Regions from separate parts of the Homo sapiens genome. Here regions 1 and 2 are each reported to be linked to region 3. Evidence: microRNA targets listed by miRTarBase, many of them from high-throughput screens and not tested one by one. Region 3 holds a microRNA gene; each other region holds the end of a gene's coding sequence.

The links. The annotated mature microRNA hsa-miR-6769a-3p reads GAGCCCCUCUCUGCUCUCCAG and lies in region 3 at 3,103-3,123, opposite strand. An mRNA with a match to its seed (bases 2 to 7 or 8) in the 3' UTR can be bound and repressed. Matches are read on the target gene's strand: a 7mer-m8 pairs with bases 2 to 8, a 7mer-A1 pairs with bases 2 to 7 and ends in A, and an 8mer does both.
Region 1: the mRNA of FBXO28 is a reported target of hsa-miR-6769a-3p. Seed matches in the 3' UTR shown: 7mer-m8 at 3,659-3,665.
Region 2: the mRNA of SLC8A3 is a reported target of hsa-miR-6769a-3p. Seed matches in the 3' UTR shown: 7mer-m8 at 2,587-2,593.

What each region holds. Positions count from the first base shown.
Region 1 is chr1:224,157,108-224,164,302 of GRCh38, forward strand. FBXO28 (F-box protein 28) reads left to right here. Exons shown (of 5, transcript NM_015176.4): 5 at 245-4,940. The coding sequence ends at 639. Among named protein-coding and RNA genes, the nearest start is that of DEGS1, 23 kb to the right of the region's middle. RefSeq lists enhancers at 3,240-3,534, 5,305-5,805 and a silencer at 3,240-3,534.
Region 2 is chr14:70,040,139-70,047,337 of GRCh38, reverse strand. It overlaps SLC8A3 (solute carrier family 8 member A3), which reads left to right. Exons shown (of 7, transcript NM_182932.3): 7 at 1,015-3,123. The coding sequence ends at 1,391. Among named protein-coding and RNA genes, the nearest start is that of SNORD169, 66 kb to the right of the region's middle.
Region 3 is chr16:4,667,294-4,674,492 of GRCh38, reverse strand. MIR6769A (microRNA 6769a) reads right to left here and starts at 3,175; the gene lies at 3,103-3,175. It overlaps MGRN1 (mahogunin ring finger 1), which reads right to left. Exons shown (of 17, transcript NM_015246.4): 8 at 6,181-6,228; 9 at 3,034-3,102; 10 at 836-995. RefSeq lists enhancers at 248-835, 836-1,425.

The sequences.
Region 1 (7,195 bases), not on the chromosome of region 3:
CCCTTCTCCGTTTCCTGGCAGTCTACATACTGCCACATGAGCAGGAGAATCAGAATTTAAACTCATTTATAGTTAAAATAAGGTGTTAAATTATGATGATTAACCCAACTGACCAAATGGATTGCAAAGAAGAAGAAATTATCAGAAGTGACATAGTAAGGGTATTCCATTTTTAAATAAGTGTAAGTATTACTGGTAGAGAGACATTTTAAGTGACTGACCCTTTTGAATTATTCCTCCACAGTTCCAGGACCGTCTGCAGCCCTAACAACAATGCAGCTCTTCTCCAAGCAAAATCCTTCAAGACAAGAGGTTACCAAACTCCAGCAGCAGGTTAAAACAAATGGTGCTGGCGTGACTGTTCTCAGGCGTGAAATTTCTGAGCTTCGCACCAAAGTGCAAGAACAGCAAAAACAGCTTCAAGACCAGGACCAGAAACTGCTAGAGCAGACCCAGATCATAGGTGAACAAAATGCACGGTTGGCAGAGCTAGAACGCAAACTACGAGAAGTAATGGAAAGTGCTGTAGGAAATTCCTCAGGGTCCGGGCAGAATGAGGAGTCTCCTCGGAAACGAAAAAAGGCCACGGAAGCCATAGACTCTCTTAGGAAATCTAAACGTCTTCGGAATAGAAAGTAAATTGGAATGTGGTTCTAGTTCCAGAGGAAGACACAGCTTAGTAGCTTAAGCAGTTATGCATATCAGGATACTGTGAGCAACATGGTGTCCCTTAAGCTTCTAGGCTTTCAGAACACAACTTAAACTTGAACTCTTATGGTTGGGACATTCTTTTCCTGCTTCTCCTGATTGAACTGATGCACAGAATCTTTTTACTTTGCAATAGATTTGTACTAACCAGACCTGTTCTATCATGTTTTGAGGAGTTAACTTTTTTCTGTGCAGATAATGTTGAAAGTAAGTTAATTTGTTTCTGCATATATGCACATACATACGTAAGGATCTTAAACCCAGTCTTGACAGACTAGAAGTTAAGTTTAATACAGAAAATGTCCTGTTCACTTGAAAGAAAAGACCTACTTTTTAAATGGACACTATCTTGGTTCTTTTTTTTTTAAGTCATCTTTTTGTTATAAGTGACCTTTGTCTGGAATGTCTGAAAAGTAGTTAATGCTTTTTGGTATTGAAGTAATGGGTAACTAAAATGGACTTCCATAGTATTGACTGTAGAAGGAGCCTCTACAATATTGACTATATATTTTTATAAACTACTGGCAAGGAACTTACCCAGCTGTTATACATGTTTTCAGTTCTCTTTGGGGGCCATGTCCTACATTTGCATGGATGGATGCATGCATTGCCTAGTCAACTCACTTAAAAAGCTCTTGCACTGGTATTGATCTTGAACCTCTATACTTCTCCACTTTTTAGAGCGGCGTCTTAGTTTATTTAAACGCTTAACATCTTCCACCGCAACAGCTTGCCTCTAGAGGGGGAATTGTTCATCCATTTGTCCTCCAGTTTTATAGGAACAAGAGACTATTAAAGCCCATTGCTTTATCTGCTCTCTGTAGGGTTCAGGTACACTGGCTAAGGCAGAACCCCAAATTTCAAGGCTCTTTCTATCAATATTGGACCTCTGGGAGCTAATACTCCTCTTTGCTCACCACCATGTGATCATTGATCAGATGTGGTGAGTGAGTAGGGGACTCGACTTGCGGGATGCAGTTTTGCCATTGCAGCAAAGTTCATTGAGGAAAATTGTACCATGAAAAAGCATTTTGATTATTTCATTTCTGGAGGATGACCTTGAGGGAAGCTTTTTAATATTAGTTTCAAGCTTTCCTTACCCTACAACTTTAAACAAAAGCTTTAATTTTGTTTGCACTCCTATTTTGAGCTTGTAACTGGAAAAGCATGTCTTGCACTGTTCAACCTCCTGAGTGGTCGCTTTAACAACCTCCAAATTGTGTACAGTGGTTATTTTCCCCAGTTGTATAGTTTTGAGACATTCAATTATCACTGTCTTAGTTGTATTTTAATTTACTAAATTATGTAGCTATTTGACTGTTAAGTTCTTTTAAACAACTGTTTCCTTGGGCTTCAGTTATTTAAAGTAAATTTAGGTGTAATATAGAAAACTGTCCCTTTCCAGGTGGGAGCTTAACACCTGTATAAAACCTAAGGTTTTGGTAAGTACCTTAGTTGAATAAAAGCACAAGGTTATCACCTTTTTTATCCGTCCACCGTGACATGGTTATGCATCCTTTAGATTAACCTCACCAAATGAAGCTTTTTCTATCCATTTTTAATATTGTCCTTACATAATATTGTCCTTAGATTTTGATCAATTCTATGTCTGACTTTGAAATTCCATTTACAATGTAGTATGTTTTCAATGAAAAACCATAAAGTAACATCCAAGTGTTTCATGGTTTGTTGGGAAGGTAATTTTAAAATAAAACAATTTCCAAAAAACATTTGTCAGCCAAGGTCATCCATAAAAGTCCCCGTCTGGAACTCGTTTTCTCAGCACTTCTCATTTTTATAATCATAGTATTTAGCCATATTAGCATATCTTTAGAGGAGGCCTGGTGGAATACCCGGGGCCTCTACTAGTCTGCTTTTCCGGTCATAGGAAGACTTTTTTTTTTACGTATCAAAGCATGTGTTTACAGATTTACAGAGTGTGATCCGTATGCATCAAAGGGATACAGCCCCAGACTGTTTCTTTAATGGTCATTCATGAACTATTAAAAATTTCCTGAATTTCTTTTTAAACTACATCTAGATAGCCTAAACATCTATGTAGTCTTCCATTAGTTAACATGTGTATAGGGCTTTCATAATAAGTAGTCACACTGTTACAAGGTAAATTTTCTATTACAAAATCCAAATTTCTATTGCATACACTTATAATCATCTATTCATAAAGCTAATTCATTGTACTTGTTAATGCATGAATGTTCCATGCAGTAGGAGAATAAAGCACTACAGTTCGGTTGTTCAAATCTTAAATCTTAGGCTATTTAGCTAAAACATGTTAGGATATTGCCTTCACCACTTGTTAGGACAGTTATTTGATAGCCATTATGCTTACCTATGGATAGCATAATGGTATTTAAGGTTCAACAAACCGCAGATTATTATGATCAGCTAGAACTGACATATGTTACAAGAAAACTGTAAATTAACCTCCTGAGAGAACCATTCTGCCCTGCATTTTAAGTCAGGTATTTAAATACTGCGTGTTGTTAATATTGCGTTGTCTTAGTGCAACATTTCTTAAAGTATTCCCGTTATCTTCCTTGGCTGTTTTTCAGAGGAGACGTCTCCATGTTAATGGGTCCTTCCCACATAGAAATGTATTCTGGTACAGCGCTGCACACATGGATAGCAATGTGAAAAGGCATGCCTAAGAGACAGAAACGGCTGACCTTACCCCACCCCAGCCGGATCCTCTGCTTATCTCCCACATGCACTTGGCTTAACTGGTTTTCACAGATTCTGAGGTTATAGAACCTGTTGTTTTTCAAACTCCTGTACAGAGCCTGGAAATAATGGAGCAAACGCAAATGTATTGAGAGTCATTATACTTTAAAATAGTTTTAAAGACTATTGGGGTACCATCAGGTCAAAAGCCACTGATTTGGGAAGCAATTTTTTTGCAAAACACTTTTTTTGGAGTACTGAACTTTACAGGGGCTTGCCTTAATCTCTATTTAGTAGTTTCAAGATATATGCGCAATTATTCTACGTGTTAAAAATGTTAAAATATTCTATGTAGCCCCAAAGGTGGGTAAAACAGTATAAGTAATGCCTAAATTAATAAGCTAAAAGGTGTCACTACAGCTGGATTTTTGAGAGAAAATGGACATAAAACTAGGCTATGTGTAATAAAAATAATGGCACCTTAAGATTGCACTATTTTATGCATTATTTTATATGCCATTTCATAGCCTGCACTTTAATCTCCAAAGAAACGATGTATGATGTCCCACTTGTTCCTTATTCTTAATAAACTTTTTCCTGAGACAGGGCACTTAATTCTATTTTACTATACTGAATTAGTTTCTTGGAGGTAGATTCATTTCTTGAGTTCTCTGTTTCCTTAGCCATAATATTTTCTAGGATCCGGGAACTCCCTATATTGTCTATTTCCAACATTATATAATTTTAATTTAATGTAATGTAAATCTCATACTTGGTGATCAGCACATTCTTATATCCTGCTCTAGCAATGAGTACCCATTTGTTACACTTACCAAACTCTCTAAAAACATATACTGTGAGTAAGATTTGAAGCCAGGAATAAAAGGCAGTCTGAAAGAAAACGTCCTATACGATGCAGTTGTTTGGAAATGGCTGATTTCTGATATGAAACCCAACTTGATACACTGTTTGGTTCTTTGACTTGGGATCTATCTGAATTGCTTTCACTAGTACACAAAAGGTTAAGTTAAAACTACTTTAAACTTGTATAGCCTGCCATCTGAGGTGAATTATTTTCAAAAAATACTAAATCTATGAACTGAGACTAGCAATTAGTTGGCTGCTCCCTACCATGATTTTACTTTTAATAGCAATACAGTTATATTGGTGATAAATATGACAGGCTTAAGTACTGCTGTCCTTTTGCATCTTCCTAAGCATCTTGGTTAAATTTCTGAAGTTTAAAAATTAGATCCAGATTTCTTCTGTTGTGTCTGAAGAGAACCATGACATTTAGAAGTATATTGGTAATCTATTAGGTCCATTGGCAAAGTATATTGGTCCATATTCAAACCTATTCCAAAAGGTTAGAAGTGTTTAAGATTCCTTTATTGTGGTACCATGTCTGTTTACCTATGCTTATGAGCAACAATAAATTACTAGTTTACCTTCTGGAATTTTAATTGTTATAACCGAATCAATTATTGGAAAGTGAAAAACACCTCCCGGTCACACAACAGGGTACGTAAATAAATGTGTTGTTACCAGTGCTACTTGTTTTCTTTGTATTTCATGCACAAAAGAATATGGAGCTCTATTGCTAACATACCATATTGATAGCTACTGTCTTTTGGAGCACTGTACTATGTGTTTTACAGATGTTACAGTGGTCCTCACAGCTACCTTATAAAGTAGGTTTTACTCTACGTGGGGAAGTTGAACTCAGGCTAAGCAACATGTCCACAGTGTTATGCAAGTAAGTGGCGTAAGTGGGATTTGACCCATGAGCTCTGAAGTTTATAAACTTGCTACTACACTACACTGCATCCTAGAAACCTGAGAACAATGAGACTCTGAACTTAATATAAGCAAGACCATCCCACACATCCACTAGAAGCAGTCAATGCCCAAATCACTAATGCTAACAGTAGTATATAGAACTGAGATCAAGAAAAGGCTGGGCTAGGCCGGGCACGGTGGCTCACACCTGTAATCCTAGCACTTTGGGAGGCCGAGGCGGGGCAGATCACAAGGTCAGGAGTTCGAGACCAGCCTGACCAACATGGTGAAACCTCATCTCTACTAAAAATACAAAAATTCGCCGGGCGTGATGGCAGGTGCCTCTAATCCCAGCTACTCGGGAGGGTGAGGCAGGAGAATTGCTTGAACCTGGGAGGCAGAGGTTGCAGTGAGCCAAGATTGTGCCACTGCACTCTAGCCTGGGTGACAGAGTGAGACTCCGTCTCAAAAAAAAAAAAAAAAAAGCTGGGCTTGGAGGAGGCAACTTTTAAGGTTATTTGCACACAAGGGGTTCACCCTAGGTGTACAAGTAAAAGAGAATGTTTAAAAGGCTTCCAGAACCTGTAATCTTAAAATCAGAGAAGTCCTGGCAGTAGATGTGCGCTAAGGCTACTGACATGTCTAAAGTCACCTTCTGGCCGGGTGCGGTAGCTCACACCTGTTACTGCAGCATTTTGGGAGGCCAAGGCGGGTGGGTCATTTGAGGCCAGGAGTTTGAGACCAGCCTGGCCAATGTGGCAAAACCCCTCTCTATTAAAAATACAAAAATTAGCCAGGCATGGTGTCGCACACCTGTAGTCTCAGCTACTAGGGAGGCTGAGGCATGAGATTCGCTTGAGCTGGGGAAGTGGAGCTTACAGCGAGCCGAGGTCACGCCACTGCACTCCAGCCTGGGCAACAGAGAAAGACTGTTTCAAAAAAGTCACCTTCCTGTATAATATATGCTGCTGGTCAGTAGAAAAGTAGCAACTACCAATTCTTTCACCCTGCGAGGGTGGGGTACTAGTTCTCTTTTCAAGACTACGTCCAGTTCCAAAACTAAATGGTTAGAATTTCAACAAAATAAAATTATATAAATCAGTTTAACCTGTTCCTTAAAGGTGTAACTGATAGGGAATTGCTGAAAACAATTCTCTGAAGAAGAGAAAACTTATCTAAGTTCTTTAACCCCAGCCTGTAGACAGCTTAAGATTTTCAGAAAAGAGATCACAGATAACTTTATACTGTGGGTGAGGGTGACAGCAGTGGTGTCAATTGTCCTAGCACCATTACTGCATTCTAGTCATCCAGATAGCCTAGAAAGATAAAGGTGGCTACTGTGTATCCCAGTCTTCAGAAGGTAGATGAGGGTGGAAATTTGAATTTTCATATTCTCCAGGTGGCTCAATTGCTGTGTAATAGATTCACGTTATTAGAAACCAAGGATCTTCACCAGTATTCTTGCTTTTTTGCTTTTCTTTAAAAACTTTTTTTAAAAGATCTCACCTGTATGAACTTTCCCATGTTAATTGCTGAACCAATTCTTACAGAATTCATTAAAGATGATGTTCTTTCCAAAAAGATGTATCTCAACTCGCTGGTATACATTCCTCTGGTTTTTTTGTTTGTTTGTATGGAGTCTCTGTCGCCCAGGCTGGAGTGCAGTGGCGTGATCTTGGCTCACTGCAACCTCCGCCTCCTGGGTTCAAGTGATCCTCCTGCCTCAGCTTCCCAAGTAGCTGGGATTACAGGCGTGCGCCACCATTCCCACCTAATTTTTGTATTTTTAGTAGAGATGGGGTTTCACCATGTTGGCCAGGCTGGTCTCGAACTCCCGACCTCAGGTGATATGCCCGCCTCGGCCTCCCAAAGTGCTGGGATTACAGGCGTGAGCCACCACACCCGGCCTACATCCCTCTGGTTTCTGATTAATCATTTCCTCAAAGCAAAATTAGAGTAAATCGTACACAGAAGAAATATGAGCAGTTGGGTGTTTGAGCAAAATGTACAACTGATAACTGGAAAG
Region 2 (7,199 bases), not on the chromosome of region 3:
AGAAACAAAAACAAACAAACAAACAAAAAAACAAGGCCATAGGCAAGAAAGGGTAAGAGGTTTTCTCTGGGAGATCTAAAAAAAATGGCAATAATGAGGTAAGCCAGGCAGATACCTTTGGGCATCTCCAAGTCCTTGCAATTGGCCAAGACAACAGCTAACAACATTTGAGGCTTTAAGAAGGTTACCCTGTGATCCACTCATCTGATTTAGTGGCTTTGGCTGAAGCTCTTTGGATATAGTTGAAGGTATGGAAAGGGTCCTTACATGAGGACTTTAGGGTCAAGTCTCTTGCTAACATCCTATGTGACCTTGGGTAAATTCTTTGACCCTTATTTTTCTTACCTGTAAAATAAAAGAATTGGGCTAGATGTCTCTGACAGTCCTCCCTGTATCTACAATCTGTGCCAAGATCTAAAGTCAAACACCCTGCAAGGCCCTGTGATACATATATAAACCACAAAGACAGAGCCCCGTCTTCCTTGAGTCCACAGTTCACCCTGCATGTCCCCATCATGGTTCCCCAACATGTCCTCTGTCCCCAAAATCCAGCACCTCACCCAGTGCTCAATCAGTAGGCATTGCTCAATAACTGTTGGTGGTTCGTGAATAAATGCCCCATATGACAGTTAAAATCAGGCATCTACTCCAAGCAGCTTCCCAGGGTGTCAAGGTTCCCTGGGGAGATATTATGGGATGGCAAACTTCCCTTACTGAAAAAGTAGTCAAAGGAGAACAATAAGCCCACTCAGTAAATATCAGAACTGGAAAGCCCTTCAGAATCTTTCAGATCACTGCAGATGAGGAATGGGAAGCCCAGACTAGGGATGTGACCTACCCAGGGCCACACGGCTTGCTTGCGGCAGAACTAGGAGTTAGGAGTGGCCCCCTAGCCCTTGTCTCTCATTCCTGGGTTCAGCCCACCAGCTCAAGCTGCTTTTTGGGCATACTGGAAGACAAGCCCTGCACACCTTAGCCTCCTACCAGTTCCCATGTGTCTTTGTCCTTTTCCAGATACGTTTGCCAGCAAAGCTGCTGCCCTCCAGGATGTATATGCAGACGCCTCCATTGGCAACGTGACGGGCAGCAACGCCGTCAATGTCTTCCTGGGCATCGGCCTGGCCTGGTCCGTGGCCGCCATCTACTGGGCTCTGCAGGGACAGGAGTTCCACGTGTCGGCCGGCACACTGGCCTTCTCCGTCACCCTCTTCACCATCTTTGCATTTGTCTGCATCAGCGTGCTCTTGTACCGAAGGCGGCCGCACCTGGGAGGGGAGCTTGGTGGCCCCCGTGGCTGCAAGCTCGCCACAACATGGCTCTTTGTGAGCCTGTGGCTCCTCTACATACTCTTTGCCACACTAGAGGCCTATTGCTACATCAAGGGGTTCTAAGCCACACAACAGAGCCTCCAGCAGGGCAGGCCTAGGACTTCTCCTAAGAGAAGGGCACTTCCCCACCAGTGATCTCTCCCGACTGCACTGCCCTGGAGAGGCAGCATCAGGACCTAAGCCCCAGGAACTTCACCCAACTTAGGCCCTGGCAATTAACTGAAAGGGCAAAGTCTTAATCAATCAAACAATGGAGGAATCACCGACTTTACACAGTATTTAATTGAATACAAACAAGCAACAGCAACAAATCCACCTCCACCCCATCTCCCCCTCATATCCCTGACCCAAAGCAAAGGTCAGAGCCTTTCGCCTCCTTCTATTCCATCTTTTGATTATTCCTTTGCCTCTCATTTCTTTGGAAGCAGGGTTTCTCCTCTCTGCCCAATTCCATATGTCCCTATTATCTCACTCAGCTGACAAGACGTGAAAATGAGTCACATTCATGTGGCTGGGGTGGGGTTCTTTTTTCATTGTAATCATTATTGTGGTTGCTTTCGTTTTGCCATTAGGTTTTGCTTATTATTTTGTTTTGTCTTTTTTTTCTGAAGTGAGTGAAAAAGGTGCCACAAAGGAATTCCAGGTCCGAGCCAACAGAGAGAAACATGAATTTTTAGACACATGCTCTCCTGCCACCTCTTGGCTCCATCAAGATCCAGTTCCCCATCTCACTGTTTTCTCTGAGTTCTTGGGAGGAGTGATGGTGTTGGGGTAGAAATAAGCTCACTCACCCACGCAGGGTACTAAAGATCTTACAGGAGCTTCAACTGGAGCAGGAGGAGCTTTTTATGCTTATGTTGAATCAAGTCAGATACAAAAAGCAATTGTCCCTCTTTGCCCAAGCCTTTCCAATTCTGTGTGTCTTGTTGTGTCAGTGTCCACTTGTGTATCCTTCTGCAGGAAGACCCGCCAAATAGAAGAGATGGGACAAAAATAGGAATGGTGTGTGACGACAAAGGGCTACTGGAAGAACAAAAGGGATACAGGCCTTCTTGATTATCTTTGGCTTTGTACCTGAGGCAGGAGAGAAGAGATGTCCAACCAGTGAGATCTTTAAGAGAAAAGTTTGTATTTTAAATGTCAATGTGCCTGAGAAATGTCAGCTTCACCACGCTCTTGCTTCCTAATGCTCTATACAAAGAGGGCTGACTATATTTCTTGAAGTGGTGTAAAAACTTAGAGATTTTATAAGAGAACCAGGGGCTCCCTTCACCTCTCCTGGTCCCTCAGGTCACATATGAAAGCATTTTTACAAGATAGGAACTGGAATTCCTCATTTCTCCCATGTTCCTGCTTGTTCTTAAACTTCATGAAGCTATTTTTCCAGCCTATGGGGTAGTTCTTGCTCCAGTAAGAGGAATCTTAGTTGTCATAATCCCTTGGAGCCTGGGTTTTTGGAGAAAGAGATCTCCGTGCCCTACAGACCTTTTCTCAACGAATGTGGGAAGGACCTGGCTTTAAAACACGCACACAAACACACAAATAAACAGACATAAGATGTCATCACGAAACTGCCCACGGATCTTTAGGCTTTCTGCATTGACATAAATACATTTTCTAAGGGGGGGGGGGAAGAAATTAAAAAACACCTGTTAATTTTAAACACATTTTTTAAGAAAAAAATAATTAAAAAAGAAACAGTGCTCATGTCATAAGCTATGTTGACAGTTGCCAGTGGAAATGTTGGGTTGGTTCAAAAAAAAAATAAAAGCTATACTATATCTCTCTACATACAGCTTGCTTCTACCTGTGTTTCTTCAGTGAAAGGTCCAGGGGGCCACTGTGGGCTTCTTGTGAGGAGACGTGACTCAGGTGAAGGTGTCACCTCCTCTCACACTCAGGTGCCAATGTGTCAGACCCAGTATATTCTAAGCAAAAATACTTCAGGAAAATGCCACTTGTCAAAACCTGGACTTTGCGAAGTTGGAAGATGTAAGTAGTAGTAAAAGCTGTGGTAATTATGGAGGAAGGAGGTTTCTGTATCAGAAAGGCATTGGCCGTGACAGACTCCAGCTAGGAAAACAGTGCCCTGCACCTATTACCAACAGACATGTCTTCACTCATTCATTTACTCATCATTCATTCAACAAAAAATTTAGGAGCATGTTGAATATATTGAATGACACTCTGGTGATACAAAGAAGAGCAAGACATAGTTCCTGACCTCAAGAAACTCACAGTCTAGGCTGGGCATGGTGGCTCATGCCTATAATCCCAGCACTTTGGGAGGCTGAGGTGGGTGGATCGCTTGAGGCCAGGAGTTCAAGACAAGCCTGGCTAACAGCTCTACTAAAATTTTTAAAAGTTAGCCAGGCATGGTGGCACATGCCTGTAATCCCAGTCACTCAGGAGGCTGAGGCACAATAATTGCTTAACCCAGGAGGCAGAGGTTGCAGTGAGCCAAGATTGTGCCACTGCACTCCAGCCTAGGCGACAGAGCAAGACTCTCTCTAAAACAAAACAAAACAAACAAACAAACAAACAAAAGAACTCACAGTCTACATGGGGCAAGTGATCAAGAAGCCCACTAAACTTGTTCAAAGAACAGGGGCAATACTGCGAAGGCCTGGTGGCAGGATCTTGTGGAACCCAAGGCAGGAGGCACAGCCAGGCCGTAGGAGCCTGAAAGCCATCAGGAACTGAGCCCACATTCCCTACCTCCCCCAAGCCACCTGGCCTCTCTCACCCTTGCTTCCCTCTGCCCATTGGGCCCATCCTCTTCCTTTATCTCCCAAGGTGCTTCCTCTGATTTATTTTCTTGCACATAGCCCAGCACAGTCACCAGCCCTGACACTATATCATGACCTCACAGCTTTGATCACCACAATGAACTGGAACTTCCCTCTTTTCCTCTGAGTGCAAATTCTCTATCAAGAGAATATGGTCAACTCTCCATCTCCAGAGGGCCATTCTGAGAAGGCAGAATCCTTTGTAGAAGGCAGTCACAGTGCCTATGGACTGGGTGCTTTGTGTCAAATGTTCACTTCTGGTACAAACAACCCAGGTGTGGAGAGGAGGGTGATGATCACATTGTAGGTACTATTGCCCCTTCTAAAAGCCAAGTGATGGGAAGAGGTTTATGATGCATGTGGACACCAAAGTGCAAATGCTAATGGCAGTCCTATGCCCTGAACACTCTAAGAGTGACCTAAACAGAATGCCATGGGAACACAATGGAAGGAAACATTAACTCAGCCTGGAAGAATTGGGAAAGACTTCACAGAGAATGTAACAGGTAAGTAGGATCTTGAAGGAAGATGAAATCATGATTTACTTTGGTGAGGGGCTTCATATTGAAGGATGGACAAAAAGTGAACAGCACATTCAAAGGCACAAGGGTAAAGCATGACACGGCACAGTCATGGAATGGCAGCAGTAAGCATGGCTAGGATAGAGGTCAAGAGGAAGGCTAAGGGTAAGTGGATCCTACCTGTGGCCCCACTGTGCCCTCTGCTGAGGTTTAGAAGGTGTCTGCAGTAGGGTCCTGGGCTTAAACTTATGGCCAAAATTGGGGCTGATAAAGCAGCATCAGGAACACAATTCCTACCATGGAGGCTAAGAACAAGATGTCAATGGAATTTGTGAGTGAAACAGATTAGCACAAAAAGCAGGCAGGGAAAAATGGTTGGACTAAAAGCCTCATTCAGTTTTTTGCCAGCCACTAAATTAAAAATGAAAAAAAAAAAAACCTTTTAGCAGATTAAATGGTAGATGCAAAATCACAAAATCACAAAATCCATTTGTGTCCATCATCGCTCCCATTTTCTGAGTCCTTTCTGGGTTATCCAGGTGTTAGGCTTTGTCAAAACAGAAGCTGGAATGAACCATAGGAGGAGAATTGAGGAATTCATCCCAGGAATCTGAAGCCCTGGGTACTAGTTTAGATGCCCCCACTAACAATCCATCTTCTCTTTGGATGCATTGTCTCCCTGGATCACAATTTCCTGAACTATAAAGTGAGGTTTTCATAAATGACCTCTGAAGTCAATTACTTCTAGCTTTAATATTGTGATCCTAGAATATATACAAAAGTAGTGTGTGTGCATGTGTGCACACATGCACGCACACGTGCATGCACACACTCAAACTGCCTGGCTACCTTAATTGACACACCATTGCAGATGCCCCTTTGCAACTCCTTGGCCCTATGGCCTGTGTATTATTCAATATGAAGAAGACATTGTTAGCCATTGTGCACGTGTTCATTTTCAGCACTTCTTACTGATTGAGCCACAACATGCCCATCCCTTTGGCTCATTTTTCACTAGGGTCATGTTAGCTGCTGTAATAAACCCCAATATTTCAATACCTTATCAAAATAAAAGTTTATTTCTCACTCCCATAATAATCCAATAAAGATGTTCTTGGTCAGCAGGTGGCTTTCTTCCATGTGATGATTCAGGGACTCTGTTTCCTTCTATTTTGTAACTCTGTCGGACTCTGGGGCCCTGGAGTGTTTTTCATCTATCAGTAGATGGCACAAAAATTAGAAAAAGCACACACACACTTCTGACTACCTTGATTTTGAAGTAGTACTCATTACTTTCGCTGATATTCTTGTATTAGTAAAAGCTGGTCACTTCAACCCACTCACAAGCAAAGTAGACTGGGAGATATCATCCTTGTGGGGCAGCCACTTCCCATTGACCATTCTATACTACAAAAGGATGAAATGTGTTTGAATGTTTGCCTCTGCCACACTCCCTTTGTGATTAAAGATAGATATTTTTACTATCGATGGCCAAGAGCAATCTGACCTATGTCTATGTGGGTTTTCATGGTTCACAAAAAGCTTTTCATATACATGTGTTTGAGTCTGATAAGAACCACAAGTGGTAGATATTCTTATTTTATCAACGAAGTTCTGAGAGGTTAGATGATTTCCCAGGAGAAAGCAGATAGTAAGAGGCAGACACAAACACAGGTCTTCTGATGCCAAATTCAAGCTCTTCCCAGAATATTATGAACCCTTGTGACAAACACCAGAACAAAGAATGAGACTTAGAGGAAGCTGGATCTAGCCAGCGAGACAGAGTTCCCTAGAGAGGCAGCCAGGGTCCAGGTGGGGAAGGTGAGGGAAGGCGAGGGAAGGCGAGAGAAGCCAGTCAGCACTGGTTCTCTCACCCTCCCACAGTTCCCTTCTCCTCTCCTTTGTCTCCATTCTTACTAAGCGAGGCACTTCCCCTGGGGGCACCTGAATGGATGATGTGCCAGTAAAAGCCAAGGGCAGACTGATGGAAATTTCCAAAAGAGAAATTTAACTGTGATAAAGCTATTTGGATTAAGGAGCCTGATTACAATTTTCTAATGGAGAGTCATCTGGCCCCAGGAAGGGGGTGATTCAAAAGACATCTTCTTGGGAAAGGGAATCCAAAAAAGACTCCTGGAACATGGCCCTGGTAGGTGTGACATATGGCATTTGTGGCATTTTCAGGAAGGAACAAAGGAGAAGGGAAGTCAAACTGACTTTACGAAAACTAAGATCAGCCTTTACTAGTAAACTTGAAGGCAATTCATTATTCTTTCTTTTCTTTTTTCTTACACTTTTACTGAAGTGTAACCAACAAATAAAAATTATATATATTTGAGGTCTACAAAATAATGTTTTGATATTTGTTTACATTGTGAAACGATCACCACAATCAAGCTGATTAGTATATCTGTCACCTCATATAGTTGCCCTTTTTTGTGATGAGAATACTTAGGATCTACTCTCTTAGCAAATTTCAAGTACTCAACACATTATCATTAACTATAGTCACCATGCTGGACATTAGGTCTCCAGAACTTGTTCCTCTTATAACCTCAGGT
Region 3 (7,199 bases):
ACATGGTGAAACCCCATCTCCACTTAAAACACAAAAATTAGCCAGGCATGGTGGTGCAGGGCTGTAATCCCATCTACTCAGGAGGCTGAGGCAGGAGAATCACTTAAACCCGGGAGGCGGAGTTTGCAGTGAGCCGAGACTGCAACACTGCACTCCAGCCTGGGTGACAGAGCGAGACTCTATCTCAAAAAAATAAAATAAAATAAAATAGCCAGGCATGGTGGCTCATGCCTGTAACACCAGCACTTTGAGAGGCTGAGGCAGGCAGATTACTTGAGGCCAGGAGTTCAAGACCAGCCTGGCCAACATGGCAAAACCCCATCTCTAATAAAAGTAAAATATTAGCTGGCCATGGTGGCAGTTGCCTGCAATCCCAGCTACTAGGGAGGCTGAGACAGGAGAATTGCTTGAACTCAGGAGGCAGAGGTTACAGTAAGCTGAGAACTCGCTACTGAACTCCAGCCTGGGCGACAGCACGAAACTGTCTCAAACAAAAAATAATAAAAATAAAATAAGAATAAAGATTTCATTCACTCATCAATTTTCGTTCAGTTCATCTGCCCTGGAGCGCCTCTGTAGCCCTTTGTTCTGCAAGCCTTGCCTGGCTGGAGGCAGACGTGAAGATCTGAATGCCCCGTGCTAGCGTCCCTGCCAGCTCTCTCACGGTGACTGACTCCGACAGCCAACACGCCCACGTTCAGCACAGACTAGATGAATGACAACTCTTCTTTCTTAGCCATCAACGGACCTGTGGCCCCCTATCCCAGGACCACCGTGGTGTGGCCAGTCCCTAATTTCCAGAACCTTCCACAGAACAGCCGGCCGGGGAACTCACGCAGCCGGCAGATGGGGCAGTTGTTGGCCTGGTAGCGCAGCGTGTCGGCGCAGGAGGTACAGAGGCACAGGTGGCGGCAGGGCAGGATCAGCGTGTCCCGCAGGTCGGACAGGCACACCACACACTCGTTGCTGTTGTCGCTGTTCTCGTCGTCCGAGGGCTGCCGGGACAAGGGCTTGTGGGTCAGCAGCCTCCCAAAGGCCAGAGTACGGCTCCTGCTTCCTGTCCCCAGCTGTCCCACCCCACTCCACCCTACCCTGGGGGCTGTCATGACAAAGAGAAGTCCAGAGGGGAGGGGGAGGTTGCCCCAGAGCAGAATCACCAGGCTCAAATCCAGTGCAAACTCAGCACCTGGCAGAGGGGGAGGGTCTGTGCCCCTCACCCACCCAAATCATGAGAACATGGTCTCTTTCTGTTCTTCAGACCTAAAGAAAAAATGAGGAACAGATGCACCTAAGAAACACATCTTCCTGAGGGTCAGGGTACCCGTTATCTTTGGTTTAAAAAAAACCAAGTTAATGGTCAGGCGCGGTGGCTCACGCCTGTAATCCCAGCACTTTGGGAGGCTGAGGCGGGCAGATCACGAGGTCAGGAGATCGAGACCATCCTGGCTAACATAGTGAAACCCCGTCTCTACTAAAAATACAAAAAATTAGCCGGGCATGGTGGCACGTGCTTGTAGTTCCAGCTACTCAGGAGGCTGAGGCAGGAGAATGGCGTGAACCCAGGAGGCGGAGCTTGCAGTGGGCCAAGATGGCTGCCACTGCACTCCAGCCTGGGCAACAGAGCAAGACTCCATCTCAAAACAAACAAACAAAAAAAACAAAAAACAAGTTAATATGTTAGAAGTATTTTCATTAATGGCAGCTACCAGAAACCACATTAGCAACTGGACAAAAAGAAAGCCAAAAATCTAAAACAGGTGTCCACAAACTAGGCCTGTGGCCTGTTTCTATAAATAAAATCTTACTGGAACACCGCCACACCCACTCATTTTTATACAGTCCCCGCTGCTCCTGTTGTAATGGCAGCGTGGAGTCAGTGCAACAGAGACCATATGCCCGGGCGGCTGAAAACATTCCCTCTCTGAACCTTTTCTCAAAGTGGGCCGCCCCCTGGTATGAAACATGAATGCACTGACTTCCCTGGGTTGAGGCGAGGCCCGGCCAGGTGCTCCGCTCCCGCCACGTGGAGCTGCTCCAGTTGTCCTGGGCCCAGATGCCATAATGAAGCGGGCCTGTGAGACTTTCCAAGAGATCTTAAGAGGCAGGAGTTTCACTCATGTCAGTGTGCCTTTTAACAAGTTCATCGACCAGGCGTGGTGGTCTCAGGCCTGAAATCCCAGCACTTTGGGAGGCTGAGGCAGGCAGATCACTTGAGATCAGAAGTTTGAGACCAGCCTGGCCAACATAGTGAAACCCCATCTCTACTAAAAATACAAAAATTAAAAATTAGGCTGGGCGCGGTGGTTCACGCCTGTAATCCCAGCACTTTGGGAGGCCGAGGAGGGTGGATCACAAGGTCAGGAGATCAAGACCATCCTGGCCAACATGGTGAAACCCCGTCGCTACTAAAATACAAAAAATTAGCCGGGTGTGGTGGCGCGTGCCTGTGGTCCCAGCTACTCAGGAGGCTGAGGCAGGAGAATCGCTTGAACCCGGGAGGCGGAGGCCACAGTGAGCCAAGATCTCCCTGCTGCATTACAGCCTGAGCAGCAGAGTGAGACTGACTCAAAAAACAAAAACAAAAAAAACTAATTTCATCCCCTGCTACATTCCCTGACTGGGGTACACCACGGCTTATTTGTCAGGCACCAGGACTGGTTCTATGGACATACAGAATAAGCATCCCTCCCCCAGGAGCTGCAGGGACGTGCTGTCTCTGGGGAGGCGGGCAGGAGCCGGGCAGCAGGGTGCCACACACCTGAGCCTAGAGGGTGAGACACTGGCCCCCATTCCTGGGCTGCCCTGGGGAACCTGGATGGCAATTTACATCAGAAGCTAGTGAATTTGCTGGAGAAAGGATAAAATGTTCCCTAAACTGTTAGCTTTAAAAAAAATTAAGGAAAAATGATGTTGTCTAGCGGGTCTAGGACTCCAGGGGAAGGCATGGAAGGGAACCGGCAAGCATTGCTGTCCGCGGCTGCTCCTGGTGTGGGCTTCTGTAATGGCAGAGGGAAACCTCACCCAGATACACACCTTGGTCTCCTGGTTGTTCTTGTTCTCAATGCCATAGATCTCCTGCAGGAGGTAGCTGACCCGGTCCACCTGGAGAGCAGAGAGGGGCTCACTGGGCCCTCGCCAACTGCCATATGAGGGCTCCTCCATACCCACCTGGCCTAGCCCTGCCTCCAACTTACCAGGCTTCCATACCAGGGGTCAGTCCAGCTCAACCCCTGGGGGCCAGGAGAAGGGCAGGGAAAACCTGCTGCTTGCCCCCACCCAACCAGCAGCACCTGGAACAGGGCTGGAGCCGGTGGCTCTCCCCACTACTGGGGGCCTGAAGCCAACCCACAGGCCCAACCACCACCCCCTGACCGCCTCACCACCCCCAACACCACTTGGCTCCACCACCACCAGCCCCACGAGGAAAGCAGGAGCTGACGCCTGAAGGCACCAGACAGCAGCCTAAGTTCCCACTGCTTTCCAGATCCTCCTTCCAAAAGGCATGAAGCCTCTCTGGTTTCAAAGACGCCAAAGCAATGTCTCCAAGCTGATTCTGTCCTGCCACCCACTTGCAACCAAAAAGCCTCACGCTGACCACATTGCAAAGCGGTTTGTGCTGCTGGGTTTCCCAGAGACCATGGGCCAGGAGCACCACTCCAGGGAGCCCAGGGCCTGCTGGTCAGCTCTCTCAACACAAGGCCCTGACCATCACTGGGGTCTCCTGTTCCCCTGGTACCTGCAGGGACCTGGACCTGCTAGAGTTTGCTGCACCTCTCTTTTGTTTATTGTGATTTACATTTTAAATAGACAGGATCTCGCTACATTGCCCAGGCTGGTCTGGAATCCCCAGGCTCAAGCAATCCTCCTGCCTCCACCTCCCATAGTGCTGGGATCATAGGCATAAGCCACTGCACCTGGACAAACTCTCTTCTAAAAAGCTAACAGATGGCCGGGTGCAGTGGCTTACACCTATCATCCCAGCACTTTAGTAGGAGGCCGAGGCTGGTGGATCACTTGAGCCCAAAAGTTTGAGACCAGCTTGGCCAACATGGCAAAACCTCATCTCTACAAAAAATACAAAAATTAGCCAGGCATGGTGGCGCGTGCCTGTAGTCCCAGCTACTCGGGATGCTGAGGCAGAAGAATCACTTGAACCCAGGAGGTGGAGGCTACAGTAAGCTGGGATCATGCCACTGCACTCCAGCCTCGGCGACAGAGTGAGACTCCATCTCAAAAATACAAAACAAAATAAAACAAAACAAATTAACCAACTGTGGTGGCGCACACCTGCAGTCCCAGCTACTTGGGAGCCTGAACGAGAAATCACTTGAACCTGGGAGACAGAGGTTGAAGTGAGCTGAGATCGCGCCACTGCATTCCAGCCTGGGCAACAGAGCGAGACTCTGTCTTGTCTCAATAAAATAAAATTAAAATTAAAATTAAATTAAATATTTAAAAAATTAAAAACTAACAAAAATCATTCCCAAGTGGTGGCTTGAAACAGGTCTTATGCGCCCCAACAGTACACACGGAGTAACTGTTAGCTGTGGCCTAGGACATCTCATTAGCAAGATCTAACACTGCTGTTTAGGGCACCCCATCCTCTAAATTCTCGGTGCCTACTTGTGAGGCCACCAGGAATAACACTTCCCAATGCAGCATCCCAGGATCGCTGACCCCAGAGAACAGATGTACTGCTCTATAGCTCCATTTATTCTCAACTATTTAATCCTTCTTTTCAAGTATTGATGAAGTCAAGCTAAGTCTCTGTCCAATACTGACATATTGGACAATTTGTAAGGAAGAGGAGAAGGAGTTGCAGACTTTGTTTCTGGTCTCTTTCCTTCCTTTTCCATCCATCCATTCGGCAAATATTTACTTAACACTATGTTCCAGACACAATGGCTCAAACTGGACAGAACTCAGGGCCTGCAGGCGTCCCTGTACATGGCGGGCACGCAAAACATATATGCTCACCCAAGACAGGGACCCGTCGTCCCAGAGCTTAGAGCTCTACAGGGAAGTCAACAGGCTGTTGCACAGCTTTTTTTTTTTTTTTTTGACACAGTCTTCCTCTGTCACCCAGGCTGGAGTGCAGTGGCATGATCTCGGCTCACTGCAACCTCCACCTCCTGGGTTCAAGCCATTCTCCTACCTCATCCTCCTGAGTTGCTGAGATTACAGGCATGTGTTATTATACCCGGTTAATTTTTTTATTTTTAGTAGAGACGGGGTCTCACCATGTTGGCCAAGCTGATATCAAACTCCTGGGCTCAAGTGATCTGCCCACCTCGGCCTCCCGAAGTGCTGGGATTACAGGCGTTAGCCACTGCGCCCAGCCCCTGCACAGTTATTTCAAAGGCAGCAGCAAGGGTAGCCTAGGAAGACCAGTGCATGAAGACTACTGAAGAGTGTGTGTGTGTGTCTATATATAAGTGTGTGTGAGTATATGTGTGTCTGTACATATGTGTATGTGTGTGTGTCTATGTGAGTGTATGCGTCTTTGTATATGTGCGTGAGTGATTGTATGAGTGTGTCTATGTATATGTGTGCAAGTGATTGTGTGTATGTATGTCTGTATATGTGTGCGAGTGAATGTGTGTCTATGTATATGTGTATGAGTATACATGTGAGTTTATGTGTGTGAGTATATGTGTGGGTATGTGTATGAGTGTGTGTCTGTATACGTGTGTGTATGTGTATATGTGTATGAATGTCTATGTGTGTGTGAATGGGTATATGTGTGTGTATCAGTATGTGTCTATGTATATGTGAGTGAGTGTGAGTGTATGTGTGTATGTGTACGAGTGTGTCTATGTATATGTGTGTGACTGAGTATATGAGTGTGTCTGAGTGTGTGCATCTGAATGACTGCATGTGAGTGTGAGTGTATGTGTGTATGAGTGTCGTGTCTGTATGAGTGTGTGCGAGTAGGAGTGTGTTTATGTGTGTATGTGTGTGTCTGTGTGTTTATGTGTCTATATATGTGTGAATGTGAGTGTCTGATGGTATGTATGTGTGTCCGTATATATGTGCAAGTGAATGTGTATGAGTGTGTATGAGCGTGTATGAGTATATGTGCGTGTGTATGAGTGTGTGTCTATGTATGAGTATGCGTGTGAGTGATTGTATATGTGTGTCTTTTAATTCAAGCACGTCATATTTCCTCTGATGACTTACAATTTGCTTCTGCTTTAAAGGCTTCACAGAGAAGCTGCCGTCCATGTGCTGCAGGGGAGAAAGACAAAGAGGTTAAGGTGGTCAAGCTGGCGCCTCTGAGCACCCCTGCGTGGCCGCCTGGGTTGGCCACCCTGCCCCAGCCAATCCATGCCCACAGCTGGAAAAAGAAAAAAGAAAAAAAAAAAAAAGGGTGGGGCCACTTGACAGCGAAAGAGCCGGGATTTCTGAAAACACGGCCTCAGGCCTGGCTGTGCAACTATCTGAGGCCTCCAGAACACACAGCCCGGGGACCCTCTGCTGACCCACAGAACCCAACTCTCCTCGGTTGGTCTCAAGCACACTCAAGCTGAATGCCAATCAGCCAAGTTCAGATGATGGACAAGGGCCTCCTGCACACCGAGAAGTATCACCTGGCAGCAAGAATCAAGACAGACAAAACAGCTTCCTGCTCTCCCAGGCCCGGCTGAGTTAGAAAGACAGAGCGGGAGCACGCACAGTGGTGCACACACAGGGAACCGCAAAGCTCTAAAAACGCAGGAACGAAATAGAACAAGCACACCCGGCGGTATCCAGGGAAACACACCACCGCTCAGAGTTCAACAAGGTTAATTACGGCTTGAGATCGGAGACCTCGCAACAACACTCATTATCCCTTCTCAGTCAACCACCATCAGCACTCAGAATTTTCCAGTGAGGCTGGTGGGTTCTAACAGAAATTTCCAGAATGTTGGACTCCAAAAATAAAGCAGTTTCCCACTGGGTTCTGTACTTCAAGCACAGAATAGACCATTTTGCCAGAGATGTCCCATCTGCCTCTGCCAGAGGATGCAGATGTGTCAATAGTCACCGTGGCTTCTGACGAGTCCGGGCCGGGGAGAGCAGCTGGGGAGCCCAGTACTAAAAAGGCAGAAGGCTGCCCTCTGCCCAGGGCACTTGTGTCACCACAGTCTGTGGTCCTGGACCCGGGAGAGAACAGACCCAGCCTCGCCACAGGACACACAGAGGAGAGGGTCCTCTAC